Linked DNA regions of Homo sapiens. The protein of the gene in region 4 purifies or fractionates together with the protein of the main gene of each other region. This does not show direct contact. Each region holds a gene or a part of one and is shown on either strand. Other genes may lie near its edges.

Region 1 (4,054 bases), on a different chromosome or scaffold from region 4:
CCGCTGCCCCTGTCTGGAATTCCCTGCCTCCTCAACATCAGCAACCACTAACATCATATGACAATTATTTATCACGTTTTGGGTACTGCCCCCCTCCAATGAATGAAGCCCTGCTCTCTAAATATGGGAACGTGTTCGCCATTTTGTTCCCAGAACCAGGAACGTGGCCTGGTGCAAAGCACGGGCTCAGCAAATGCTTGTTTTTTTTTTTGTTTTTATTTTGTTCAGTTTTGTTTGAACAAGGTCTTGTTGTCATGCAGACTAGAGTGCAGTGGTGTGATAATGGCTCACTGCAGCCTTGATCTCCCAGGCTCAACCTGCCTCAACCCCAAGTAGCTGGGACTACAGGTGCACACAAACCACCAAGCCTGGCTTTTTTTTTTTTTTTTTTTTTTTGAGACGGAGTCGCCCAGGCTGGAGTGCAGTGGCGTGATCTTGGCTCACTGCAACCTCTGCCTCCCGTGTTCAAGCAATTTTCCTGCCTCAGCCTCCTTAGTAGCTGGGATTACAGGCACGCGCCACCACGCCTGGGTAATTTTGTATTTTTAATAGAGACGGGGTTTCTCCATGTTGGCTGGTCTTGAACTCCTGACCTCAAGTGATCCACCCACCTTGGCCTCCCAAAGTGCTGGGATTACAGGCATGAGCCACTGCACCAGGGCCCCTTCTAGATGTTTCTTTGTTCCACCCATAACCTTGCCCCAGGATCACTGCCAAGGCCCTCTTAGCTCTGTCTCCAGCCCAGCATGCCCTCCTGAGCCCCAGCTTGGTGTCTACCTGCTTCCCGCTCACCCCAGCCCCAGATGTCACTCCCCAGGCACTCCTCTTTCTCCTTATAACAGTGCCTCATCTCCTCAGGCTCCTGGTCCCCGCCTCACTCCCTGTCTCCCTCAGACCTCCATCTGGGCCCCATCGGATTGTACAGGCCTCTCCTGAGACCCCTGCGTGGCTCCACCATCACCTCTCCTGAACCTCAGTGGAGGCTGCTCTATCCAGAGCCACTAATCAAACCCTGAAACCCTGAAACGTGCCACCACCTTCAATTGCTGACCCTCTCCAATCCAGGCACAGCTGCCACCAGGGAGGCCTGTGAAGCCCATGCATTTGACCACGTGACCAGAGTCCTCCCCACTACATCTTGGGGGGTCTGAATTCAGATGGGACTTCTGATCCTGGCATCCTGGTCCTGGGTCCCAGGCAGATACTGGCCCTCATCGTTCCCCGAAAGTACGGGCTCTGTCTTGCCTCTTGGCCTCTGCATGTGCGGTTCCCTTACCTGCTTTTGCACCCAAAACTCAGCTTCAACAGAGCCTTCCCCAAATGCTCCCTGCCTGAGGCACCACTGATCCCTAAAGGACCTCCTGTGACCATCTGACGATGTGGTGAGGGTGCTGGAGGACAGCCTTGGGGCAACGGCCCCTGGGTCCTAGCCCACAGCCACCATGTACCGGCTGGGTATCCCGGGCCATCCCCTAACCTCCTGTAACCTCAGTTTCCTCATCTGTCAAACAGTCAACAATGCTGACTGCACAAGCTCATATTGGAAGAAACTAAGGAGATGATTAGAGTAAAATGTCCCGAGCCATGTGGGCCCTCAGCACGCACCCTTCCTGTACTGGCCAGGGTCATTACCATCTGTGCAAGAGAACAATCTCTCTCTCTCTCTGGGGACCACTCTGGGGCCTCAAAAAGGAAATGTCCTTCAAATGCTTAGTTTAATTTCTGGCCCAGAGTACACGCTCAATAACTGGGAGTGGTTGTTACTACATGGTCACAGCACCCGGCTGTGCCACTGACGGGAGATGGAACTTTGGCCATGTCACTGAAACCTTTCCCAGCCTTGGTCTTCCCCTCTGTGAAATGGAGTCTCACAGGATCGCCGTGAGAACTGAATGACTAACTCTATGGAAAATGCTTCCAAAACAGCCCTCAGTAGGTGTGTCCCACTGTTACCATCTCCGTCCTTGTCACTGCCACCTGAATGGTCTGCTGACTCATTCCTGTGCCTTATCTGAGGCTGTGTCCCCAGGTTCTAAGGCAGGGCCAGGCAGAGCTGGCCCCTACTCTAATACCCCAGGGGACTGACACAGCCAGCCTGAGCCTCGGATTCCCCTATATGTATAAGGGGTCAAGAAGGCCTACGTGGTCGAGCGTGGTGGCTCACTCCTGTAATCCCAACACTTTGGGAGGCCGAAGCGGGTGGATCACCTGAGGTCAGGAGTTTGAAACCAGCCTGGCCAACATGGTGAAACCCCGTCTCTCCTAAGAACACAAAAATTAGCCAGGCGTGGTGGCAGGCGCCTGCAATCCCAGCTACTCCAGAGGCTGAGGCAGAATCGCTTGAACCCGAGGCAGAAGTTGTAGTGAGCTGAGATCGCCCCACTGCACTCCAGCCTGGGCGACAGAGCATGACCCTGTCTGAAAAAAAAAAAAAAAAAAAAAAAAAGCTATACCTCATGAGATAAACAGCAGCTGCAGGCTGGGCACAGTGACCCATGCCTATAATCCTAGCACTTTGGGAGGCCGAGGTGGGAGGATCACTTGAGCTCAGGAATTTGAGACCAGCCTAGGCAACATAGTGAGATTCCATCTCTTAAAAAAAAAAAGTTGCTGGGTGTGGTGGCTCATGCCTGTAATCCCAACACTTTGGGAGGCCAGGCGGGCAGATCATGAGGTCAGGAGTTCGGGACCAGCCTGGCCAACATGGTGAAACCCCATCTCTACTTAAAAAATACAAAAATTAGCCGGGCATGGTGGCGCGCACCTGTAGTCCCAGCTACTCGGGAGGCTGAGGCAGGAGAATTGCTTGAACCTGGGAGGTGGAGGTTACAGTGAGCCGAGATGGCACCACTGCACTCCTGTCTGGGCAACAGAGTGAGACTCCGTCTTAAAAAAAAAAAAAAAAAAAAAAAAAGCAGCTGTGGCCTCTCCAACTCCCTTTCTCCACGATGGGCCTGTGTCACCCTGGAGCCTGCCCACCACCCTGCAATCCGCTGCTGGGCTGCCACCAGTCTCCCCTGTGTCCTCTGAACAACTGCCAGGGAGGCCGCAGCTAAAAAAGGCCTCTTGGAGTTGGCGGGGGCGGCAGCCTGCCCAGCCTGGGCTTTACACCTCCTATCGGGGAGGGGCTGTAGCAGGCTGGGCAGGGGAGAAGCCACCCCAGCAAGCAGGGCCCACAGATGTCACTACCCTCCTGCCTTACAGTTAGGGAAACTGAGGCTCACAGAATCTCAATGTCATACAACTCATTAGAAGAAACCACTAACAGCAGCTGTCTCTGGGCAGGAGAGCCGGCGAGCTGGGGCTGAGAAAAGGGATTCATTTGTCCGCTTCTGGAAACTTTGAAATTTTTTTTTTTAAGAGACAAGGTCTTAGGCCAGGCTTGGTGGCTCACACCTACAATCCCAGCACTTTGTGAGGCTGAGGCAGGTGGATTGCCTGAGCTCAGCAGTTTGAGACCAGCCTGGGCAACATGGTGAAACCCTGTCTCTACCAAAAAGTACAAAAATCAACCAGGCATGGTGGTGTGTACCTGTGGTCCCAGCTACTCAGGAGGCAGAAGTAGGAGGATCACTTGAGCCCGGAAGGTGGAAGTTGCAGTGAGCTGAGATGGCGCCACTGCCATCTCAGGGTGACAAAGCAAGGCCCTGTCTCGAAAAAAAAAAGAGAGAGACAAGGTCTTGCTATGTTGCTCAGGCTGGACTTGAACTTCTGGGCTCAAATGATCCTTCTGCCTCAGTCTCCTGAGTAGCTAGGACTATAGGCATGTGCCACCACATGTGGCTACAGATTTTTTTTTTTTTAACCATGAACAGAAATTATTTAAATGATGATGATGATAATAGCCACTGCCCCAAAAGGATTACAAATATTAAATGAATAAGGTAAGCCTTACAACAACCTTATGGGGTGGACATCATTCAGATTCTCAGGTAGGGAAACTGAGGCACAGAGCGATCAAACAGCTCCCTGGCAGTCACGCAGCACGTGAGTGATACAGACAGAGCTGAGATTTGAACCTAGTCAGGCCTGTGCTCTGAACGACAGCAATCTC
Region 2 (4,054 bases), on a different chromosome or scaffold from region 4:
CAGAAGTGCACCAGGCTCCGAGAGGTGGTTCCAATGGTTGCCTCTAGCAAACTTACTGTGTGCTGAATGCTTCCTGGGCACCCAGGCCCTGTGGCACCGGCTTTGGGAGTATTGTCTCACTTGAGCCACTTGATGGCCCAGCAAAGTCACTGCCATCACCCCTTTTTAGTAGGTAATGACACCTGGGCTCCTTGGACAGCTCACATAGCGAGCAGTAGTGGAGCTCCCAGGAAAGCCTAGTGTGCTGAGCCACCAAGCGGACCTGGGGTTCCCCAAATGGTCTCCCTCTGTGTCCCAGGCAGGCTGATGGCTTCTTGGGCAGAGCACAGGCTGGGGTCAGACAGCCCAAACTCTGATTCTCAGCAGCGCCCTCACCCTATGGGGTCTGACACAGGCCTGCTCCTCCCTGAGACGGTGTCCTCATCTAGAGGATAGGAAGAGGTGTACCTGGCTCTGTTTTTATGAGGCTAGGAGCAGGTATAATATTGAATCCGCAGCCCAGGTATACCGAGCCCTCGGTTTGTGCCCCCAGTCCCATGCCCTGTGACTTACCTTCCAAGAGCCTGCTGCTGGCGTGTCTCACACCCATGAGGATCTTCCTAATTTGTCACTGTGCTGCTTTGCAGAGAAGCAGAGCTTTCCTGAATCTCTCTGTGGCCACTGTGTGACCTGGCAAGTTCTGGCCAAGAGAGTAAAATCTAGCGTCTTGCTTGGGATGGTCAGATCCCTTCTGGGAGTTGAGGATTGGCAGCAGAGACTTGGGTGGTCCCAGAGTTTTCAAGGTAGAAGCAGCTTATACTCCAGGCCCCTGGCATTAGACAGAGCTCCTTGAGGGCAGGACAGGGCAAGGCCTGCCTACCTGGGCCCACCAGTGCCTGGCCCAGAGGAGAGGAACAGAGCTGGGCTTCAGGCCTGCAGCCAGGCTGGGGCAGAGCAGAGCAATTGGCCTGGGGCTCTTTCTTTCTGTCCAGATGGCCATCTGGGGGAGGGGACCCACAGCCCATCCTTCTGTCCAGGGTCCAGAACATGGGAAGGCTGGCACGGTGAGAGGCTCCCTGCCAACCACAGCCCCAGCTCCCGAGTCGGAGGAGCTCACCTGTCCCGCATCAGCACCTACTCCCCCTGCCATCCCTGTGGGGCTTCTCTCTCCCCAGCTTTGGCCTGGCCCCCGCCGCCCCCCTCCAGGTCCACGCGCCACTCAGCCCCAACCAGACAGTGGAGATCTCCCTGCCTCTCAGCACGGTGGGCTCGGTCATGAAGATGGAGCCTCTGAACAACCTCCAGGTGGGTTCCGGGCAGGGCAGGCACCCCAGTCCTTACTCACCTACCAGCCGGGCCCCACTGGGGTCAGTAGAAGGTCGTGTCTGCGGAGTCATGCTCTTAGCTGCAGATGTGTTGGGGAGGCCCAGGTTGGGGAACGAAGGGGTGTGTTTACCAGGGAAGGCCCTGGGAGAGAATCTGCTCAGTGACACTCTTCCTGGGGCCTCAGAGGTGGCGTCAAGCCCCAGAGACTGACTGGGGACCCCCTTGTGCCTAGGTGGCCGTGAAGAACAACATCGATGTCTTCTACTTCAGCACCTTGTACCCACTGCACATCCTCTTTGTGGAGGACGGGAAGATGGGTGAGTCATGAGGGAGCCCGCTGGGGTGCCTGAAATGGGGCTGTGGCTTGGGAACCTGGCCAAGGTGGTGCCTTTACCAAGGTCCAGATGGACTGCCTTGCCCGTAAATGGAGTCGGGGAGTTGCTGCTTCCCTGCAGGGCCTGGAGTGAGGGGTATACCCAGGACCCCCCCGGCCTTAGTGGCCAGTTCTGGTCTGGCAGGTGGGCTGTGCCACATGGAACTCACCCCACTCCCAGGCTCTCCTGCTCGCTCCTCAGCCTTGTCCCATGGGCTGCAGCGAGCCCAGGTCATGCCCCACACCTGGTAACCCCCTCCTCTGTGCCCTTTCTGGAACCCCCAAGAAGGGTGTTGATCACAGCACACAGACGGCCTGCACCCTGCCCCTGGCTGCGTGGAGCCCTTGGCCCATGTCATCTCTTGCTTGCCACAGAAGGCCTGCATGGGAGGCTGTGACTAACGAGCAGGCTGCTCACCGAGGAGGAGGAAGGCGTGTGGGGGTGGGGAGGGGAGATCCAAGGCCTGGAGGCAGGAAGCCAGGGTCATTTGGAAGCGGCACTGGGGCCTCCCTCACAGAGCGGAGGGTGTGCTTAGGGAAGCAGGAGGGCTGTGCGGCAGCTAGTGCCTGTTGTCAGCTTTCACGTGGCACAGTAAAGGCCAGACCCATTTCCTGCTGAGCTACAGAGGGCCCACAGGTTTATGAGGGGCTCGCCTCTCATCCCCACCCTGCTCACCCCGCAGACCGGCAGATGTTCCTGGCCACATGGAAGGATATTCCCAATGAGAATGAGGCCCAGTTCCAGATCAGAGACTGCCCCCTCAATGCAGGTGAGGACTCCGAGCCCCCGACCCCAGCCCCTCGCCTGTACCCAGGCCCCCGCGCTGACTGGGGCCTCTCACGGCCATGTGACCCCACAGAGGCTGCGAGCAGCAAGCTGCAGAGCAGCAACATCTTCACTGTCGCCAAGAGGAACGTGGAGGGCCAGGACATGCTCTACCAGTCCCTGAAGCTGACCAACGGCATCTGGGTGCTGGCGGAGCTGCGGATCCAGCCGGGCAACCCCAGCTGCACGGTGAGAGCCCCGGCACCCGCCCTGCAGCCTTGGAGCCTCCCCTTCGTCCCATGCCAGGGGGTGGCCCTGGTGGAGGACGCGGTCCAAGCGTCCCTTCAAGCCTGGCTTGAACTAGAATCAGTTTGGTCCCTGAGAAGGACCTTTCTAGAAAGCTTCCAAATCAACCCCGTCAGGTTACCCAGATAAGACACCAATTGGGTCTCGGAACAGTGAGTTGGACTAGAAGATTGTGTAAAATTGGGCCCTGTAAGGTGGTGCAGTTGGTTTGGCACCCCTGACTGGGAAGTGACATTGCTGGGCACAGGCCCTGGCCCTGTCCTGTGAGTGCCTGCATGTCCAGCTGGGAGGACAGTGGTTCCCAGGAGCCTGAACCTCCCAGCCTTTGAGGTAGACCTGTTAGAGAATGGCTTCCCTGGGGCACACAGTTGTCCTGGAGGCCTGCACCGCTGTTCCAGGGCCCCGGACAGCCCCAAACTCTGCTTCTCCCCCACACCCCTGAGTCTCTGGCAGGCATGGCCCTCCAGACACTGCCCCTCCTGGGTCCTGCTGGCAGTGCTGGTCGGTGGGGGGCTGTGGCGTGGCTTCGGTGGTGGTAACTTCCGTCTCCCTGTGTTTGGTTGCTGCATGTCACCTTCCCTGCTGGTTCCCGTGGTGCAGGACTTAGAGGTTAGCAGATCGCTTTCTCTTTCCCCGTCCGCCCTCCCCAGTCTTGTCTCCTGTCATGGCCCCCATGCACCCCATGTCTCCTGTCTGCACCTCATCTCTTGGCCTCACCTCACCCGGGGGGCTTCAGCCAGGTGGCCCTGATTGAGGTGCTGACACCCCACTTCCACACATTCACAGTGTGCACAGAGTCCTTCCTAGGAGACCTGGAGGGCCCGTGGGCTGCTGCTGACCTGCGGAACTCCATTGTTCCCACTTCCTAACTGCACCCTGCAGAACCAGTGCTTTAGAGTGGATGGGTGGGGGCTCCTCTCTCCTCTGCCTGTGATCTCAAGCTCAGGCCCCAGAGCGGAGGCAAAGTCTCTACCGTGCCTGCTTCCTACGCAGGAAACCAGGAATGAGCCCAGCACCCCTCCAGGCTCCCTCCCAGCCCTCCGCACCCCCTCGGGATTTTCTGTCAGGCTTCAGTCCTGAGGACCCCAGACCTTCAGGGACTCTGGGGGGCCGGGCAGCCCTCAGGGTGGGGGCCGGGCACTCCCTGGCAGCCTCCGGCTCGTGACTCACACTGCTCGCCAGCAGGGCTCTGGTGACTGGGCTGACAGCAGGTGTGTGGGCTGCAAGTATATTTGGTCCACACCCGGCTGGCTGCGACAGCCGCCCCCTCCGCTTTACCTCACATCTGTGCCAGGCGCAGCTGC
Region 3 (4,657 bases), on a different chromosome or scaffold from region 4:
TACCACCTAGTCGTCCTGTCTTTCCCTCCTTGCTGGGTCAGTCTCATTTTTGCCAGATCAAGGGTCTGGGGTGACTCAAGAACGAGTCCCTGGACCCTCCACTTCTCCATCTACACCTTCACCAGGGATCCATATCACCCAGTGCCTCAGCTCTAAATGCCTTCATGAGGACCACTCAAAGTGCGTCTTCTGCCCTAGTCTCTCCTTGGACTGTCAGACTTGGATATCCAAGGATTTGCCCAGGATCTCCCAAAAATGTCTGCCAGGCACCTCAATCCTAACATATCCAAAACTGAACCTCTTCCCTTCTCCACTTCTCACCTCCCTGTTCATGGGTGTGCCCTGAGCTCAGGCCTAGAATGACTTCTCCATCTCCAATTACTCCCTAGCCGAGTACATCCAGTCTCTTTGCTTTCAGTACCATCTACAGGCTGAGGACTCCCAAATATTCATTCTTCAGCCCAGACCTCTCCCCTGAACTCTTGATCTACATTTTCTACTTTCTATGCAACATCTGCACCTGATTATCTGAGCGGCATCTCCATTCTAACATGTCCCAAACAGAAGTCCTAATCTCTCCCCACTCTCACCTCCCCAAATCTAGTCTCTAGACATCCTCATCTCAGTGCATGGCAAACCCATCCTGTCAGTTGCTCAGGCCAAAAGCCTTGGCATAATAACCCTTTACGAGGTTCTCTCTCGCAAACCCTTCATTTAATCCACCAGCATATTCTGTAGGCTCTGCCTTCAAGATCACTGCTCACCACCTCTACTACTACCACCTGGTCAAACCATTATTCTCTCTCCCTTGAGTTTTTTCCAACAGCCTCCCAATGGCCTCCCCACTTCCACCCTTACCCTGTCATGGTCCATTCTTAACACTGAGGCCGGCAATCTCATTAACAAATCAGATGTGTTGATCCTCAGTTCAGAAGACCCCCATGGCTCCCAACTCAATCAAAACAATGCAAACTCCTAACCTGCATAGACAGGCCTATTGAAGTCTCACAGAACATGGACCCTAACTACCTCTCTGACTTCATCTCCTCTTCTTGTCAACCGTGTACCAGCCACACAAGGCTTTCTTTCTGCAAATAAGTCCCCTGCCATAAGCATTTGCACTTCTTGCTCCCTTTATTACGCTTTTCCCCCAGGTGTGTAGTTCAGTCTTTCATTTCACTGAGGTTTCTTTTTTTTTTTTTTTGAGATAGAGTTTGCTCTTGTTGCCCAGGCTGGAGTGCAATGGCGCAATCTCGGCTCACCCGCAACCTCCACCTCCTGGGTTCAAGCAATTCTCCTGCCTCAGCCTCCAGAGTAGCTGGGATTACAGACATGCACCACCACGCCCAGCTGATTTTGTATTTTTAGTAGAGACAGGGTTTCTCTATGTTGGTAGGGCTGGTCTGGAACTCCCGACCTCAGGTGATCCACCCACCTCGGCCTCCGAAAATGCTGGGATTACGGGCATGAGCCACCGCGCCCGGCCTTCACTGAAGTTTCTTATCAAATATCCCCGCACTCTGGCCTGGGCAATGGAGTGAGACCCTGTCTCAAAAAAAAAAATTAAGATTACCATTTTACAATTAAGCAAATAATTCCATGATGAAGCCAGGCCCAGACTACAGGCTGCAGCCCTTATAAAAAAACAGTGGGTAAGTAAAAGTTGATAAACAGCAACAAGGAAATGCACACTTGTGTTAATCAAATATTTAATTTCACACATGCTCTAATGCTTTACTTCCCTTACAATTCTAAGTAGCAGTCTAATGAGATCACATAGGCCTAACAACATTTATTCAACATTCTTCTGACAGAAGCTACAGGCATTTGCTCCAATTTATTCTACCTTTCTTTCTAGGGAAATTGAATAACAAGCAGAATGGAATAAGATTCTAATCCAGAATTCTGGAGACAACGCCAAGGAGACTGCCCTTCAGGTGACTCTAATCTGCAACCAGATTGAAGAACCAGATGACTTTCACAGGATCCATTCAGTTCAAACCAGAAGTCCTACTATTTTGAATAGAAAAGCTGTTAGGCTAATAGCGCAGGAGGTTTATACGGTTTATTCCTTCCTCCCTCAGACCTGTGCATGTCTGCAGAGATGAAGGGAAGGACGAACTGAGTAGGTTGCTGAAAAACGTTTAATTCAAGGGACAAGGAAGGTTACGGAAGAGGAAGAGACATTACGAGAGTTAAGGACAGTGGCTACGTCTACCTCAGCCGGATGGTTCTTAGAAATGGAGACTCTGAGGCCTAACCCCAGGTCTAAAAAAACAGATTCTGCATTTTAACGTCCCCAGACGATTTGTATGCACCGGTCTGCATCCCTAGTTCTCAATGAAACCTAAGAATCATCTGGAGAGTTTGTTAATAACTAGACACCTGGGTCCTACCCCTCAGAGATTCTGATTTACCGGGCTCTCGGTGGAGCTATATGTTTAACAAGCACTGCAAGTTATCCCGGTACAACTGCTCCAAGGTCTACGGTCTGAGAAGTACGGACCGGGAAGGCCTCTGCAAGGAGGTTCTCATTCATCAATTCACCCACTCATCCAGCCAGGACAAGGGCCTTCTTAGGCTATTCTATCTAAAGCGGCCCCCGTTAAACCGCACTCCTGCTTTTCCTCTGTAACACCCACCCCAGCTGCAAGTTCTCCGTACGCTTACCGTCTGTCTCCCCACCCACTAGAACGTGAACTCCAACACAGCAGAGACCTTCTGTGCTTTTCTTACCCAGGTGATCTCGGAGGACAAAATCCAATCTGAAGCCCACCCACCCCTCCCGCGCATGTCAACACCACTCAACAAACCCCTTGTACCTCTAGCTGTAATAAGTAACAAGCAGTATCCTACAGGGCGCCTCGGTGCCCAGGAGCGGATGCAAAGGCGCTGGGCGGGCACAAGGCAGCGCCAAGGACACTCAGGGACGGAGGAACCGACAGGGGACTTGACGCTCCGCCACTCCGACCAGCCGCCCCTTGTCCCCGCCGTCCTCGTCCGCCACTGAGATATCCCCCACGGTCTACCCACCCGTCGGCTCCCACCTGCGACCCAAGGACCCAAGTCTTCCAAGAGCTCAGCCGTTAGAATTCAAAGGTTCTTCTTTTTAAATAGGAGTTAAACCCTCTAGCTAGAAAGCCGATTGGCCTGCGCTCGAGCGAGGCTGCCTTGTGATTGGTTGACAACAAACCCGACGCCTTGAGTCGCGTTTAAGGGCGCACACCGCGCGCAGGCGCACTTGCTCCCTAAGAACCCGGAAGTGGTGGAGCCAACGGCCAGCCAGACCTGTGGCAGTCCCAGCCCCAGGGTGCTCTCCGCGGTCGGCCATTTATCGGTGAAGCAACAGCCCCTTGACGTCAAGCTTGACGCATTGGAGATAAAGTCCAAGGAGGTGAACTAACCTTTGAACGTGCCAGTAAGTAAGATGGCGAGAAAAGCAAGAGAGAGTGGGACCGATCGATAGCGCAGCGGTCGGCTTGGCGCCCTTTCAGCGTGCGCAGTGAACGTGCGCTCGGAGCGGTAGATTGGGCAGGATTCGCGCCTCCATTTTTCCAGGAGAGAGCGGGATACCAAGAGAACCGGACCAGCTGGTACTGGGACACGGGGAGAGTAGCTGGTGCGGTCGGCTGGGGCATTTAGAGAAAACCACAGAAACGACTGGGGCGAGACTGGAAGAGTCGAGAGTTAGCAAGGTGGCATGCGCCTCTACTTTGCGTTTCCTAAGTTGCCCGGCTTGGCCTGCACCCCTTCCTCTTCTCGAAGGGCCTCGCTTCCATTCCCACCCAGTCCTTAGTTCGCCTCTGCATCCAGATGGTCGCGGCGCATATAGTGAGGGGGCATCTGTGTTCTAGCCTTTCCAACTGCGATGTATCCGGTCCTGGATCGGGTTCTTGTCCTCGTGTGCTCACCTGCAAATTGGGGATAATTAGGCTTCTGTTTACCTGGCGAGTGAACGTTCTGTGGGAGTTGAGAAGTTAGGGGTGGGCCACTTAAAATATATATATATATACACACACACACACATATACATATATATACACACACATATGTGTGTGTGTGTGTGTGTATGTACACCCGGGATGTGCTCAGCAGAAGTGAAGAGACCGGATAGAACAGTGGTGTAGGGGAACCAAAAATGGCTTCCCTCCATCCTTCCAGGTACCTTATTAGGACTAAGAGTTAAATTCACATAAGACGAATTAACAGATTACTGCAGGGTAAACAGGATGTGCATGTAAAGCATTGAGCTAGCATACGGAAATTATTCGAGTCATATTAACCCAACGTTAACAGTAGAATCTCTCATCAACTTTTCTTTGCCAGACTACCCACTTGTGATTTTCATTCTTTATTGGTACTTAAGAATCTCCCATTTTTTTCGGGTAACTGAACATTGTCCATGGGAGAAAAACGATATTTAATTACGTACAGGAGTCCCACAAAATACGAGACTAAAAGTTGAAGTCAGATGATTAAAGCCTACATGGCATCCTGAGCTACTGAAAGGAATGAATAGAGAATTGGGGGCGGGGGGCGGGAAGCAGCTCTAACACAAGTTATGGGACGGTGAACGGAGGAAATGTATGGTGAATCAAGTTTGTTATGCAGACAGAATAGGTGATCTTCTGGGTGGTGTCAGCCTCTAATCTCTCAT
Region 4 (4,054 bases):
GTTTTGAGAATAATTGCTCATGTATGAAATCAGTCTACAGTCAGTTTTCTTCTTTCACTCCTTGTTTTGTAGTGACCTCGCAATAAGCAGGGAGGCATTCCTTCTTGTAATGGCTGGAATGGTCTCTAAGACTAAAGCTCTAAGCACAGGCTTAGCTTCAGTCCTTAAGTTTTGACAGACATTTTTCCCATTATTCTCTCAGTTTTAGGTTTTTAATATCCATTACAATTCCTTTTTTGAGTTTAGAAGTGAATTTCTAAGGGTCACGTTCTTTTAAAGCTATCATTTTGCTACTGAATTTTCATGACTGCATTATGTCCTGAGATAATCATCTGTATGTTACTGAAAATAAGTAAAGGTTTTTGTAAAACCAGTCGACCTGAAACCGGTTTTCATGGGCCATGCTCTGTAGCCTGTTACACAAGCCAATTTCTATTGTGATTAAAGATTTATCAATTCTCATAGTTCTATCAAACTGCTAGATGTAAAATACAGTCTTCTGAACACATTTATGGGGGAAAAGGCACTTAGGGGCCTAAACTCTCCATCTCTTCATTAAGATTTATTGTGTTTAATGGAGACAACAGAAAGACATCAAGCTAGTATCTGAACATTCATTTGAATCAAATTAAAAATTTTAATGTTTGAGGTTTCTGCCCCACCATCCTCCCAATAACCTGAAGCTACCAGCAGGATCTCACCCCTGGTTACCTTTTGAAGACCGCAGTCTCTGTCTTGGCATCTACAGTGAGGCTGAGCGTTTCCTTCATGCCGCCATTCATCACTGTCTCAGTTACCTTGTCTGTACTTTCTGCATCCTCCTCTCCGTCAGAGCTGGCTTCCATGGCCACACTGCCTGCCGCTGAAAAGAACACAGCTGATGGTCACACACAGCAAGCCCGAAAAGGAACTGGCACCCCACCACTGTACAAACCCATCTACCCAACGTGACATCTACTGCTTGAAGAAAAAAAAGAGTGAGATGGCTTCTGCCTGCTGTTGTCTGGGCCACATTCTTGATGGGGAGAGACTTCTTAAAGATGCCCACTAAAGAGGGGTTTCATGGGTTTTCTTTACTAGAGACTAGCAAGTCGCCTACATCCCTCCCAGCTCAGCGTCCACCTCCATACCCAGCTTCTCCCAGCAGACACTTGTGCTCCTAACTGTTCCAGTGTGGGGCAGAGCAGGCAGTTACACACTCTACCCTCTACTCACTTGTTTTCCTCAGTTGGGCTCTATTTGCTTTGCTTTGTTTTAAAAATTACTTTCTTGTGGTGTTGCTGGTGGATCGTTTCTTTGTTCTCTAATGGGAAGCCAACATAGGTGATGAGCCTGGCTGAGGTGAGGCTTCCTGGATTCAAACATCGACATCACCACTTCCTAGCTGTAGACTACTTGGACAAGGAACCTCATCTATAACCTGAGTTTCCTCATCCAGGAAAGGGGATCAGTGCACCCACTTACAGAACCACTGAGGAGTCAAATGCGGGAATCTGTATCAAATGTTCAGGAGGATGATGAAACCAGCATTAGTTATTGGTTTTATTCCTTTCCCTTGCCCCTGGGAAGGAGGGTTCTCACACCCTCTACCAAAACCTCATTTCATTTTCTAAGAACTCACTCCTTAAGCCCACCTCATGATTCGTGCCCTCCACATCCTTTTGGTTCCCATCACACTCCCTTTGCTAGCATCCCCCTCCTCCCAAAGCCCCGTCCATCAAGGTGAAAACAGTTCAGGGCCGTGCAAGGAACACATTTGACTAGGTAGAGTAATAGGAAAACCCACTGGAACTTTAGAGATTCCCAGGACTATTCAATCTGCTTACAATGGCGAAGTGAAAATAACCAGCCCCATAGCTCTAAACAAACCCAGATACACCTACATGCTTGAGCAAAGCAAACTCCAAGGGACAACTACACACAGGCTTGGCTGCACACGTCTAATTCCAGTTTTATTCACCCTGGGTACTATGGGCTTAGGCCTTCTTCCCTCTAGACCTCAGTTTCCTAATCTGCACACTGCATGCCTGGTAACTTAGAGCCCTTACTCTTTCCAGAGTCAGCATGCTGTGGTTCTAGAAGGACAGGCACAATTTCTTTCATCAGCTGCCCTGTGGACATCAGACCCACCATCTCACTCCCGGGCTCCACTAGCCCCTGAGCCTGAGAATCAGGTCTGGTTTGACAAAGCAGCCACGTGACCCTGGCGTGTACCCAGGCCTCTCTGCACGCACCTTCTGGCTGCACTGCCAGGGCAGCCGCACTGGGAGTCAGAGGGTCCATGGGTTCAGTGCTGGTTTCCATTTCCACTGGAGAATTACTCCTTAAAGAATCTTTTGTGCTTTCAAAAAAGAGAAAATTCAGATATTAGCAGCAGGGAATGGTCCTCAGTTACCCCAAGATTCACAATAAGCCTTTACAAGTAAGTTTTTGTTAGGAGACATTAGCATCTGTGTAAGAGTCACTGGGTTACAAACTCCAGTGACACATGGATCTAAGTGCCAGTAGCTGTTTGAAGAAGGACATGAGTGCGGGCAGGCAAATGTTCTGTTAAGCCAGCAAGGCAGTAAGACAGGGACTTTGTAAAGCATTCTAGACAGGCTCATCATGTCCCAACTTCTCATCCCACCATAGTCACTAGGAGGCTCCCAGAGCTTGAACAGCAAAGACGTACATTGTGCAATGGCAACGGTATTTATCAGGTTGACTGGTTTTACAAAAACCTTTACTTATTTTCAGCCACACTGCCTGGGAGAGACTGGCCCTCTTAATGATATTTGTTGTTGGAACTGTGGAAACATAGTAAAAAAACACCAAATGCCTGAGCAGTAAGGGGTAGGGGTGAGGGAGATCATTACACTTCCTCTTTTATCCCTCATTCCCACAAACTCAGAGACGTGCACACAGAGGGTAAAGAGAAGCAAGCTGCTTCAATCACACCCTCAAGTAACCAAAGGCTCTTATCCTCGGGTTATAAACAGACCAAAAAAAGGAGTAGGCGGAAATGTATGTCCTGTACTGAAAAGCGGGGTAGACGAAATAACTCATTATTTTGGAGACATTTTTCACAAATCTCACTTGTACCTCTGAGTAGTAACTTAATGCTATTACTATGGTTACTACAAAGCAACATGGGTTTCAGCCTATTCTTTGGTTTGTCTAAGACACTAACTGTCAGCCCAAAACAGCTTGTCTTCCTATCTTCCGAGTTACCAATGATTGGGAGCCCTTAATTGACAGCACTGGACTAGCTGCAAGTGAACTGTAAGTTCATATTATCTACTGAATTCAAGATCCATTTTGTTTGCCTGCCACACCCCACACAGAGGTGCTGTGCCTGTCAGGATTTCTTGGCTTCACCTCATTCCTCTTCTCCTCAATTCTGTCCTGACAGCTCTATGAAGCCAGAAAAGCTCACGGAGATGCATCTTCTGCTGCGTCCTGCTAACTCCCTGGGACCGCATCCTCACAAGCTACTTTGTTCAAGAACTACTCCCATTTCCAATTAATCCAGGAGGAAAGGAAAGGAAGATGGTGATTGTTCTTCTTACAACACAGAGCTGTGTTAGTATGCTGATGTTTAATCTTTTTCAGGGCAGTATATTCAACTTGGAAGTCAGTCAAGGTGAAGAACACACGTTAACAGCAAACACCTGACCATTCCCAGGTCCCCCGTGGAAGGGTGTAGAGACAGCACATGTTCGCTCACCTCAGGGAAGACGTGAACTCTGAAAAAGAAGCCCAGCCCGTCTCTTTAGTTGGCATCGGCTCCTCTGTGCTCCAGACATCAGATCCCACAGAATCCAATGGAGCACCGTGGGTTGTTTCCATTGGGACATCAAAGTTAGCTGACCAGTTGGGTGCTAAAAAGAGGGGAGAAATTCTATTTGGAAAACACTTCAGTCGTTTCATGTACCACAAGGTATTTATCAAAAACACATTAGCAAAAGAGACTGGAGCTGTGGGAGAAAGACACTCTCACCAATGAGGGCAGGAGCGGACAGGGCACAGCCACCTGGAGGGCACTCTAACAATGATCCCACATTCTCAAACC
Region 5 (4,054 bases), on a different chromosome or scaffold from region 4:
ATATACCTCTAGACTTCCCCTTGTGTAAAAATACACATATAAACTTTAAAAACAAAATAAAATGTAACCATTTCCCGCTACTGTGAAATCTGCTTTCCTTTCTCTCACTTAATATATTGTGAAAGTTGGTCTGGGAGCAGTGGCTCAGCTGTAATCCTAGCACTTTGGGAGGCTGAGTGGGAGGATTGTCTGAACCCAAGAGTTCAAGATGGGCCTGCACAACAAAGCAAGACCCATCTCTACAAAAAATTTTAAAATCAGCCAGGCATGGTGCCATGCACCTGTATTCCCAGCTACTTGGGAGGCTGAGGGAGAAGGATTGCTTGGGCCTAGGAGTCTGAGGCTACAGTAAGATAAGATTGCATCATCACACATCAGCCCAGGCAACAGAATGACACCTTGTCTCCAAAAACAATGAAAGAAAAGAAAGGAGGAAGCGGGGAAGGAAGAAAAAGAAGGGAAGGAAGGGAGGAAGGGAGGGAGGGAGGGAGGGAGGGAGGGAGGGAGGGAGGGAGGGAGGGAGGGAGACATAAGTTAGTAAAACTGAGGATATCTGGGATGAGAACCTGCCTGTGTGTACAACTCTGGATGGACACACGCACGCGCGCGCACACACACACAGAGTTATCCTAAGGCACTTAGTTCAGCATCTTTATTTTCCATGAGTGCATAATAATATTCGATTATTTTGCTGTCCACAGTCTAAGCAGTCTCCTACAGTAGGATATTAAGTTATCCTAACACTATTGGCAATACTGCAATAACATTTGTCTTCATCTTTGAATCTTTTTCTGTTTCTATAGGATCAATAAGGACATAAATTTTGCTAGGTGAAAAGGTATGAATTTAAGATTTTTGATACATGGTTCCAAATTGTCTTTAGGAAAAGTTGTGTCAATTAACCTTCCCTAAAAAAAAAGTTATCTTTGCCAGGCACGGTGGCTCATGCCTGTAATCCCAGCACTTTGGGAGGCCGAGGTCAGGAGTTTGAGACTAGCTTGGCCAACATGGTGGAACCCTGTCTCTACTAAAATTACAAAAATTAGCTGGGCGTGGTGGTGTGCGCCTGTAATCCCAGCTACTTGGGAGGCTGAGGCAGGAGGATCACTTGAACCCGGGGAATGGAGGTGGCTGTGAGCTGAGACTATGCCCCTGTACCCCAGCCTGGGTGACAGAGTAAGACCCTGTCTCCAAAAAAAAAAAAAAAAAAGTATCTTTATCTTACACATACGTATTTCATAGCACTGTGGGGAAGATTAAATGAAGTAATACCTAAAAGCTCTTTAAGAAGTACTTGAAACATAAGAACGTTCAATGTGGGCTATAACGATAGTTTTTTTGTTTTGTTTTGTTTTTTCTTCCCCGAGACAGAGTCTTGCTCTGTCGCCCAGGCTGGAGTACAGCCATGCAATCTTGGCTCACTGCAAGCTCCACCTCCCAGGTTCACACCATTCTCTTGCCTCAGCCTCCCGAGTAGCTGGGACTACAGGTGCCCGCCACCATGCCCGGCTAATTTTTTGTATTTTTAGTAGAGACGGGGTTTCACAGTGTTAGCCAGGATGGTCTCGATCTCCTGACCTCATGATCCACCCGCCTTGGCCTCCCAAAGTGCTGGGATTACAGGTGTGAGCCACCGCGCCCGGCCCAACAATAGTTATTATTTGGAAATTTCAAATTGGGACTTTCTGGACTGGCTAATAAACTGGGTGGGTCTAGTTAGAGACAAAGCTAAATGACAGCACATGCATGCTATCCCTTTGTTCCTTCCAGCGGTACCAACACACCAGTAAGATCTTTCCAAAAATCTCTCTCCTTCATGTTTCCTAAGCTGGCTATACAACAAAAGAAAAGGCCCATTTGACAAATACATCAACCCCACTGCTCTCATAAAACACACACCCTCTCCTGGACATACCATCACACTTAACAATGACTGCAAGAGAAAAACACAAGAAACTGACTTTATTTATGAGTAGTTATTTATTTATGAGTAGTTGTTTGAGATACTGACTACTAATAAAATCAGATTTTCAGGATCTAGTACGGACTTCATTATGCTATTTGATAAATCACTAGCTGCCAAAGTTTTTGAGGGATAACAATAACTTTATCTGCAGGGATGAGGGGAAGAAATTAGATGTATTCAAAAGAATGTTTTTAATAATAAACAGAGGAAAGTCAGGGTTGGTTGTTGTTGTTTCTCCAGTAACCTGCAGTTAATAAACTCAGCTGGAGCCTGTATTAAATTTCAGATAATTCAACCTACATCAAAAAATATGGGCCATTTTACATATAATGCTCTAAGCAATCTGTTGGGCCCAAAGGGCAAAAGATACACCCATATTATTCTAATTAGAACAAATTTAAATACAGAAGCTAAAGAGAAACATTTAAGAGCACAGTAGCTGTCCCAAGAAATCTATGATGAAAAGATCTAAGTTTTTAGATCTTTGAGCATTTGTTACTTCTTCTATTTTACCAAAACAACATAAATATATAGTTTTTAAAGTTTATAACAAAAATCAGTAGTTCACTGCCTCAACCCTCCCACCCGTTTCCTACTCTTGCAGCTGTTTCTTACATTTTAGCTTTTGCTATCTACTTTCTAACAGGAAGATGCCTTCTACAACTCCCTCACTACACTCATGCTTCTCCCAATATGGAAAATCAATATTCACAGCTTACATTATTAACATGATAATGTAAATACTGCTCACAGCTGAACCAAATAGTATTCTATGACTACATTTCATTTCTCATTCAAGTTCTTAGTAGTTGGGTTTTTTTTTAACCACCAAGTTAATGGCTGTTTCTCTAAGCAATACAATGCTTTTAACACACAAAAAGTAAGCTTAAGTCACAAGCAGAAGGCCAGGCATGGGTGAGGTGAATCTGAAAGAATTATTGGTAACAGCATTTACAGCTAGGTTGTATTGACTTAAGAAGTTTGTTCCACATGTCATCATATTCCAGGGTTTTCAGGCTATAAAAGATAAGGAGTGTCTACTGATATAGGAAAAGGACACAATGCTGGAGAATATTTCTAAGTTCACAGACAGATGATTCAAGCAGGCAATTCATATAGCTGCAGGAGATTCTTACTATTTTCTTGTTCTGAAGGTAAGAAAAGAAAGTGTTGAACACTTTAAGCTAATTTTTAGCTTGCTTGCTGAAAAGATGCCCATCTAAACGGATTTCCCAAAATAGTGATTCAAGCAGAAAATCTCTGGCTTCCGAATCTTGTGTGGCATGAATAATTCCCACCTAAATTGGATGGTTTATAAATTTGACTCTCATGTTTTGACCTCTAAAGCAAGACATTTGTGTAGCTTTCTAGGAGGAGTTTCCAAATTTATAAACTTTGCTTTTCCTCAGAATTATCGCTGCCAATTCACATACTGGAAATGCACATGGCTCCTCTTCCTAGAGTTCTCTCTCCAACTGTTTTCTTCAGTCATTAATAGAATCGTCTGAGGACTTTTTTCAAAGAAAGAGTGCCTTAATTCTGAACCATGAAAAATCCTGACGGACTACTTTAATTTTTCTTTTAAGCTAGGCATATATATTCTACAATAATTTGAAAGTTTCTGAGAATATAAATTTTTTTCAGAAACAATTATAGTGCAAATCACCAATATTATTTTTTAAGCATTTAAAAAATATCAGACACAGTTCCTCCACCACCCAAATACCTATTTCTCTCCAAAACAGCTATCCCCAAATGTAAATAGATGCACAAAGCATCAGCCCACATTGAGATTAATAGCTTTTTAAATATATATTCATTATTTAGTTTATGTTGACTCAAAGACATTTCTTGAAGCAAGTAAAATGTTAAGTAACATCAGTTCAAAATACATTTCACCCAGCTTTACCTATAATGAATAGTGTTACTAGGTAAATAAGAATGATTTCAATTTTAACAAAATGAAGTAGGAACAGTCTAGGAAAAATGTTCTGAGTTGGTAATATTTAGTAACACTGTTATTATTGACATTTCTCAGAAAATAAAACTACACAGATACAGTTTGATTGTATAACATGAGCATTTCAC
Region 6 (4,054 bases), on a different chromosome or scaffold from region 4:
ACCTGGGAGGCAGAGGTTGTAGTGAGCTGAGATCGGGCCACTGCACTCCAGCCTGGGAGACGAGCGAAACTCCGTCTCAAAAAAAAAAAAAAAAGTGAGAAAGAAGTGCTCCCAAGTTGGGCATTGTTTTAAATAGCTCTGTTTTGGATCCTTGATGGGAAAAGGATGGTAGGGATCCTCTTACTGTGCCTTAGGCACAGTGGTCCTGTGACTCTCGGCCTGTTTTCTGTTATCACATACAAGACAACGTTTATTTGTTTTACATAATGTTACGAGGATACCTAGATTTGAATGGAACCCAAAACATTTCTGGGAGAATGTAACACCACGCAGTTATCACTCCTTTAAACAGTACCATATGGAAAAGAGGCTACGAGTAAAATCCCAGGCTTTTTCTCCCTTTCTCTCACACTCAAGGAAACAGGTGAATAAAAGTGACATGAAGCTGAATCAGTTATGTTCAGGAGTTACAGATGGTTTGCCAAGTAAGAAATGTTCTAATCTCAAACATTCAATGAAATGATTTCAGAATTTTCAGAAAAGTACTTTAAAAAAGACTTCTGGCCGGGCGCAGTGGCTCACGCCTGTCAGCACCTTGGGAGGCCGAGGTGGGCAGATCATAAGGTCAGGAGTTCAAGACCAGCCTGACCAACATGATGAAACCCCATCTTTACTAAAAATACAAAAATTAGCTGGGGTGATGGTGCGCACCTGTAATCGCAGCTACTCAGGAGGCTGAGGCAGGAGAATCACTTGAACCCAGGAGGTGGAAGTTGCAGTGAGCCAAGATCACACCACTGTACTCCAGCCTGGGTGACAGAGCAAGACTCCATCTCAAAAAAAATAAATAAATAAAAATAAAAAGACTTCTGGCTGGGCACAGTGGTTTATACCTCTAATGAGGTTCATACCTCTTAACACTTTTGGAGGCTGAGGTGGGAGGATTGCTTGAGCCCATGAGTTCGAGACCAGCCTGGGCAACAAAGCAAGACCTTGTCTCTACAGAAAATTTAAAAAATTAGCTGGGTGTGGTGGTGCACACCTTTCATCCCAGCTACTCAGGAGGCTGAATGGGAGGATCACTTGAGCCCAGGAGTTTGAGGCTGCAGTGAGCCATGATTACACCACTGTACTCCAGCCTAGATGGCAGAGCAAGACCCTGTCGCTACAGAAAATTTTAAAAATTAGCCAGACATGGTGGCAAGCGCCTGTAGTCCTCCTAGCTACTCAGGAGGCTGTGTGGAAGGATTGCTTGAGCCCAGAAGTTCAAGGCTGCAGTGAGCCATGATTGTGCCACTGTGCTCCAGCCTAGGCGACCCTGTCTCTAAAGAAAATATATATATCTTTTGAGACAGGGTCTCACTCTGTTGCCTAGGCTGGAATGCTGTGGTGCAATCACAGCTCACTGTAGCCTCAGCCTCCTGGGCTCAGGTGATCCTCCAACCTCAGCCTCCTGAGTAGCTGGGAATACAGGCATGTGCCACCTACATGCCTGGCTAATTTTTGTATTTTTTTAGAGATGGTGTTTCGCGCCTGGCTGAAATTTGTTTTAAATAAAATAAAACTATGTGGTGGCTCATGCCTGTAGTCCCAGCACTTTGGGAGACCTAGGTGGGAGGATTACTTGAGGGCAGGAGTTCAAAACCATCCTGAGCAAGATGGCAAGGCCCTGTTTCTACTAAAAAAAAAAAAAAAAAAAAAAATTAGCTGAGCTTGGTGGTGTGTACCTGTAGTCCCAGCTACTTGGGAGGCTGAGGCAGGAGGATCACTTGAGCTCAGGAGTTTGAGGCAGCAGTGAACTGTGTTCATTCCACTGCACTCTAGCTGGGGCAACAGAATGAAACTCCGTCTCTAAAAAATAAATAAAAATAAAGACTTCCATGTCTGTTATTGTTTTCTCTAAATTCAAAATTCAGTATACTTTTGGAGGCATTACCTCAGGACTAAATGGAATGTAAAGCCAGTCATTCTAAATGGAGATTTGGGCCTAACGTGGGAAGACAATTTGGGGAGATAATAGTAAATCTGCTAGAGAAAAGGTGACTTCTTAACTGGCTCCACTCATATTATTTAAAAATATATCTTTCTTCCTATATGGTCGTGGTGATAATAAAATGTCTTCTTATTCTATTCCTTTCCCATTCAAATAAATCATCTCTTTTAACCTAACAGGTAGTAGAAATTTCATTTAACTTTTGGTACCGACTGGGGGAACATTTGTACAAAACTAACGATGAAGTTATTCATGGCATCTTCAAAGCTTACATTCAGAGGCTGCTTCACGCCTTGGCTCGACACTGCCAGCTGGAACCAGACCATGTAAGTTCCCTTCTCTACCTCTTCAAATCTTAATTTCTTCCTCTTGTCAGTGCCAACTTGAAAAGGAACTGAGAAGATAGATAATAAACCTGGCTGGGCACCCTGGCTCATGCCTGTAGTCCAGCACTTTGGGAGGCCAAGGCAGATGAATCGTTAGAGCCCAGGAATTCAAGACCAGCCTGGGCAACATAGGGAATCCCCTGTCTCTACAAAAAGAAATAAAAGAAAATTAGCTGGGCCTGGTGGCACACGCCTGTAGTCCTAGCTACTCAGGAAGCTGAGTTGGGAGGATTGGCAGACTCTACAGCTTATACTGAAGAAGTCAGTACCAGTATAATCTGTTAGGTCTATTTAGGGAAAAAAAAAAGCAAAACACTCCAGCTAAACCAGTAATTCTTTTCCTGGGAGTATATCTTAAATCTGCAGAAGAAAAAAACAGCTATTTTATATACAAAATGTTATCTGTAAAAGTAAAAATTATAAACCCATGTACAGCAGTATAACAAGAGTTATATGAATTATATAAGAAGAGTTATGATTTAGCAACTTGATGCAGCAATTAAAAGGTAGTGAAATGATGATATGGTAAGAGAAAAATCAGAATGTAAAATTATGTACTCTTTTTTTTTTTTTTTTTTTTTTTTTTGAGACGGAGTCTCGCTCTGTCACCCAGGCTGGAGTGCAGTGGCGTGATCTCTGCTCACTGCAAACTCTGCCTCCTGGGTTCACGCCATTCTCCTGTCTCAGCCTCCCGAGTAGCTGGGATTACAGGCACCCGCCACCATGCCAGGCTAATTATTTGTATATTTAGTAGAGATGGGGTTTCACCGTGTTAGCCAGGATGGTCTCGATCTCCTGACCTCATGATCCACCCACCTCAGCCTCCCAAAGTGCTGAGATTACAGGTGTGAGCCACCGCCCCTGGCCAAAATTTTGTACCTTATTAAATAGTAGAAAATAAGTGGTTAGATGAAAACTAATACAAAAGTGAAATATTTGTGTGTATGATTTTGCCCCATGAAGATACACATTTTTTAAATCTTATTTATACTGATTTTGTAGTTTAAAAGAATATAGAAATCTATTTGCTTAGAAAAAAATACTAGAAAATTATTAGTTTATTAGAAAACTCTTCAAACATCATGCTTAGTCTCTTCAAATTTTGCCACATCGATTTCATCCTGTTGGTTGGTTGAATCCGTCCTTTAATCTAGGACCTGCAGTAAGTTTTATTGCTTACAATTAAATCCCACGTGCTGTTCTCTTAATTTTAATGTTAGTATTGTGTTTGAGTCATGGTATTTTGTATCTCCACACAACCTTAGTCATGATTTAGTCTGGTGGTTTTCAAACTGCACCCACCCCCGCTATTTTTTAAAGTGAAGAATCCAACTGGGCGTGGTGGCTCATGCCTGTAATCCCAGCACTTTGGGAGGCCGAGGCGGGTGGATCACTTGAGGTCAGGAATTTGAGACCGGCCTGGCCAACGTGGCAAAACCCCGTCTCTACTAAAAATACAAAAATTAGCTGGGCATGGTGGCAGGTTCCTGTAATCCCAGCTACTCAGGAGGCTGAGGCAGGAGAATCACTTGAACCCAGGAGGTGGAGGTTGCAGTGAGCCAAGATTGCGCCACTGCACTCCAGCCTGGGCAGTAGAGCAAGACTCAGTCTCAAAAAAATAAAATAAAGTGAAGACTCCTGTCTTCAACCACATTTTACTTGGAAGCCTGATTTA
Region 7 (4,054 bases), on a different chromosome or scaffold from region 4:
AATACGAATGCTACTTACTCATGTTCCCTTGAGCCAGGACTAGGTAAGTGCACAGTGATCCCTTTTGCTTCTCCATTTTCTATGACGACTACTCCTTGTTGACATATTTGACACTGTTGTTTTACTATAATAGATGAAGCTGTAATGAAGTCTATTCTGGGTAGGGTCTGAGATGCTGTCACCTCCGCTAATGTCAAGTTGGTGGTGCAGTAAGTGGCATGATAGAATGAGCTCTGAGCTTTAAATCAGGAACTCTGGGTTCATCTGACCCTGGCTTTGCTACAGAACTAGCTGTATCAACAACTACTTTTTTTTTTTTTCTTGATGGCTGCTGGCTGTTTGCTAACTGCTTTATAAATATCAGTGTCCTTAAATTTTGGTACAAACGTGCAGTGTTCTAATAGGATTATTCCATACATATTGTTCTAAATCTTGCTTTTTGTTTTTTCTTTTAACAATATTATTTGGTGATCTTTCTCAGCTGAATGATTAAAAATCTGCCTCCTGTTTCATTAATTCATTCAAAAATGTGCTAGGCATTATTTCAGGTACCAAAATGTGGCTGTGAACAAACCAAAGACTTTACGTTGTTCTTAATGGCTGCGTGGTATTCATTATTATAGATGTACCATATTTATTCAACCATTCCCCTTCAAATACACCAGTAGGTTATTTCCAATTTTTTTAAAGCAACAATGAGATACTGAGTATATGTGTCGTGCTAAGACTTCCTACTGATAATCTACTTATATTATGTTGTGTAATTCTTTTTTCTTAGTGATTTATGGTATATTTTTGTAGTTTTACCAGTCTGATTATCTGTCTTAACTTTTCAGTATTTTTCTTAACAATGAGGTGTTTAAATCCTCTGAAATGTATTTTGCATATGTATCATACAAAGTCTGTAGGAATATGACTTCCTTTCCCAATGGATTATTAATTTTTATAGCAGCATTTATTGAATTATTTTTCTTACCTATTGATTTCTCCATATATTCTCAGATCTCTGTGATTTTCCATTTTAATCCTCTGATCCATCTGCTTGGGTTATACTGTCTTTCGGTAACATTATTTTGATATAATTTCAAACTTTAAAAAGGCTGCAAGAACAATACCCAACACTCCCACATAACCTCTACCCAGATTCATTGACTCTTAACATTTTGCCCCATTTGCTTTATCATTCTCTATCTTGCTACAGATAGTTTTTTTTTTGAAACCATAAGTTGGAGACAGTAAGCACTTTTATCTCTAAATATTTCAGTGCGTATTTCCCAAGAATGGGAATATTTATCTTTTTTTTTTTTTTCTGAGACAGGGTCTCACTCTGTCACCCAGCCTGGAGCACAGTTGTGTGATCTCTGCTCACTGCAACCTCTGCCTCCTGGGCTCAAGGGATCCTCCCACCTCAGCCTCCCCAGTAGTTGGGACTACAGGTGTGTACCACTGTGCCTGGCTCATTTTTGTATTATTTTGTAGAGATGGGTTTTTGCCATATTGCCCAAGCTGGTCTCGAATTCCTGGGCTCAAGCAATCCGCCCATCTTGGCCTCCCAAAGTGCTGGGGATTATAGGCATCAGCCACTGTGCCTGGCTGGGAATATCAATCTTACATCGTTTCAGTACACTAATCATAATCAGGAAATTAAACACTGGTACATTTATCTATATACCATATGCAAATTTTGTCAATTGTCCTATTTTTTTTTTTTTTTTCCTGTTTCAAGATCCAATCTGGAATCTTGGATTTCATTGAACTGTTCAGTTCTTCAGGCTTTGTCTTTTTATGACCTTGACATTTTTGAAGTCCTGTTTTATAGGAATGTCCCTCAGTTTGGGTTTGTCTGATGTTCCCTCAAGGTTAGATTCAGGATGTGCATTTTTAAAGTCATAAGTCCTTAGTGCATCATATTAGAAGATATGTGTGTCCCATTGTAGGCAAAGCTAAACTCAAAGAACTTGACTAGGGTATTATCTGCCAGTTTTCTCCACTGTAAACTTGCTGTTTTTCCCTTTGTAGTTGCTACACTGCTGATTATATCCAATTTAAATTGTAATATCTGGTATTCTTGGCAATTTATATTTTCCCATAGCCTTTAGAATCACTCAATCTTCCAATCCAAGATCGTGGTATGTTTTTGCATTTTTTCCTTTAATATATTTGAGTTTTTTCTTCATATAGGCTTTTTACCTTGTTAAATGTATTCTGAGGGTTTTGGTGTTTTTGTTTGTTTCTGAGAGAGGGTCTTACTCTGTCGCCCAGGCTGGAATGCAGTGGCATAATCTTGGCTCACTACAACCTCCGCCTCATGGGCTCAAGTGATGCTCCCACCTCTGCTGGGATTACAGGGGTGAGCCAGACAGAGTCTCGCTCCATCACCCAGGCTGGAGTACAGTGGTGCCATCTCTGCAACCTCTGCCTCCCGGGTTCAAACAATTGCCTCAGCCTCTCGAGTAGCTGAGATTACAGGTCTGCGCACCATACCCAGCTAATTTTTGTGTTTTTTGTAGAAATGGCATTTCGTCACGTAGGCCAGGCTGGTGTTGAACTCCTGGATTCATGTGATCTGCCCACCTCAGCCTCCCCAAAGTGCTGGGATTACAGACAGGCATGAGCCACTGTGCCTGGCCTATTCTGTTTGTTTGGTTTTTTAACATGTTTTGCAGCCATTATTATGATTTCCTTTTTTTTCTTTTTCTTTTTTTTTTTTTTTTTTTTTTTGTTGTTGTTGTTGCCCAGGCTAGAGTAGAATGGCGCAATCTTGGCTCACCGCAACCTCCGCCTCCCGGGTTCAAGTGATTCTCCTACCTCAGCCTCCCAAGTAGCTGGGATTATAGATGCCCACCACCACGCCTGGCTAATTTTGTATTTTTAGTAGTAGAGACAGGGTTTCTCCATGTTGGTCAGGCTGGTCTCAAACTCCTGACCTCAGGTGATATGCCCGCCTCGGCTTCCCAAAGTGCTGGGATTACAGGCATGAGCCATTGCGCACGGCCCATTAGTATTATTTCTTAAATCATTGAGCATCTTGAGTTTGTTTTTTTGTTTGTTGGTTTGTTTGTTTTGCGACGGAGTCTTGCTCTGTCACCCAGGCTGGAGTACAGTGGCGCGATCTCAGCTCACTGCAAGCTCTGCCTCCCAGGTTCATGCCATTCTCCTGCCTCAGCCTCCGGAGTAGCTGGGACTACAGGCACCCGCCACCACGCCTGGCTAATTTTTTGTATTTTTAGTAGAGACGGGGTTTCACCGTGTTAGCCAGGATGGTCTCGATCTCCTGACCTCGTGATCCCCTGCCTTTGCCTCCCAAAGTGCTGGGATTACAGGCGTGAGGCAGCGCACCCGGCCTTTTTTTTTTTCTTTTTTAAATAAGGCATATCATATTGCTTTGATTATAAAAATACCACTTGATTTTGTATTTTTTCCAGTATTCTACTTATTTGGTCTTTTGATGATGGTATAAATACTAAGTGAGGCATTATGTGAAAAATGAATATTTCAGTGCTTCATAGCGTGACATTTTATTTTTATTTTATTTATTTATTTCTTTGAGATGGAGTCTTGCTCTGTCAACCAGGCTAGAGTACAGTGGCATGATGGCTCACTGAAACCTCTGCCTCCGGGGTTCAAGCAACTCTCCTGCCCCAACTGCCCAAGTAGCTGGGATTACAGGCGCCCACCACCACACCCGGCTAATTTTTGTATTTTTAGTAGAGACAGGGTTTCACCATGTTGGCCAGGCTGGTCTCGAACTCTGGACCTCGTGATCCACCTGCTTCAGCCTCCCAAAGTGCTGGGGTTAAAGGCGTAAGCCACCGTGTGTGGCTGAGCCACCATGCCCAGCTATTTTTACTTTTATTTTATTTATTTATTTTTGAGACGAAGTCTTGCTGTGTTGCCCAGGCTGGAGTGCAAAGGCGCCATCTTGGCTCACTGCAACCTCTATAGTGTGACACTTTAAATTTCGTAATTTTATATTTGTTGATTTCTTCCAAATGCTTGTATTTACAAATTTTTCTGTTTGTTGTTGTTTGTTTGTTTGTTTTTGAGACAAAGT

The links.
Region 1: the proteins of PPP6R3 (region 4) and CDC37 fractionate together in Homo sapiens (co-fractionation; one large-scale study listed by BioGRID). This does not show direct contact.
Region 2: the proteins of PPP6R3 (region 4) and AP1B1 purify together in Homo sapiens (affinity purification with mass spectrometry, with the first as the bait; one large-scale study listed by BioGRID). This does not show direct contact.
Region 3: the proteins of PPP6R3 (region 4) and AURKA purify together in Homo sapiens (affinity purification with mass spectrometry; 8 studies listed by BioGRID and IntAct, with this or other methods). This does not show direct contact.
Region 5: the proteins of PPP6R3 (region 4) and ENAH fractionate together in Homo sapiens (co-fractionation; one large-scale study listed by BioGRID). This does not show direct contact.
Region 6: the proteins of PPP6R3 (region 4) and TNPO3 fractionate together in Homo sapiens (co-fractionation; one large-scale study listed by BioGRID). This does not show direct contact.
Region 7: the proteins of PPP6R3 (region 4) and LIN28A purify together in Homo sapiens (co-immunoprecipitation; one large-scale study listed by IntAct). This does not show direct contact.

The regions. Positions count from the first base shown.
Region 1 is NC_000019.10:10,397,043-10,401,096, forward strand, and holds part of CDC37 (hsp90 co-chaperone Cdc37), read right to left. Parts: intron 1-4,054. UniProt on the Homo sapiens protein: Co-chaperone that binds to numerous kinases and promotes their interaction with the Hsp90 complex, resulting in stabilization and promotion of their activity. Inhibits HSP90AA1 ATPase activity.
Region 2 is NC_000022.11:29,329,017-29,333,070, reverse strand, and holds part of AP1B1 (AP-1 complex subunit beta-1), read left to right. Parts: intron 1-1,154; coding exon 1,155-1,284; intron 1,285-1,537; coding exon 1,538-1,622; intron 1,623-2,361; coding exon 2,362-2,448; intron 2,449-2,538; coding exon 2,539-2,693; intron 2,694-3,350; coding exon 3,351-3,359; intron 3,360-4,054. UniProt on the Homo sapiens protein: Subunit of clathrin-associated adaptor protein complex 1 that plays a role in protein sorting in the late-Golgi/trans-Golgi network (TGN) and/or endosomes.
Region 3 is NC_000020.11:56,389,121-56,393,777, forward strand, and holds the start of AURKA (aurora kinase A), read right to left. Parts: upstream 3,096-4,657; 5' UTR 3,048-3,095; exon of another isoform or gene 2,671-3,047; intron 1,546-2,670; exon of another isoform or gene 1,436-1,545; intron 1-1,435. UniProt on the Homo sapiens protein: Mitotic serine/threonine kinase that contributes to the regulation of cell cycle progression.
Region 4 is NC_000011.10:68,600,150-68,604,203, reverse strand, and holds part of PPP6R3 (serine/threonine-protein phosphatase 6 regulatory subunit 3), read right to left. Parts: intron 3,864-4,054; coding exon 3,710-3,863; intron 2,342-3,709; coding exon 2,235-2,341; intron 863-2,234; coding exon 712-862; intron 1-711.
Region 5 is NC_000001.11:225,520,450-225,524,503, forward strand, and holds part of ENAH (protein enabled homolog), read right to left. Parts: intron 1-4,054. UniProt on the Homo sapiens protein: Ena/VASP proteins are actin-associated proteins involved in a range of processes dependent on cytoskeleton remodeling and cell polarity such as axon guidance and lamellipodial and filopodial dynamics in migrating cells.
Region 6 is NC_000007.14:128,995,654-128,999,707, reverse strand, and holds part of TNPO3 (transportin-3), read left to right. Parts: intron 1-417; exon of another isoform or gene 418-485; intron 486-2,172; coding exon 2,173-2,319; intron 2,320-4,054. UniProt on the Homo sapiens protein: Importin, which transports target proteins into the nucleus. Specifically mediates the nuclear import of splicing factor serine/arginine (SR) proteins, such as RBM4, SFRS1 and SFRS2, by recognizing phosphorylated SR domains.
Region 7 is NC_000001.11:26,420,716-26,424,769, forward strand, and holds part of LIN28A (protein lin-28 homolog A), read left to right. Parts: intron 1-4,054. UniProt on the Homo sapiens protein: RNA-binding protein that inhibits processing of pre-let-7 miRNAs and regulates translation of mRNAs that control developmental timing, pluripotency and metabolism.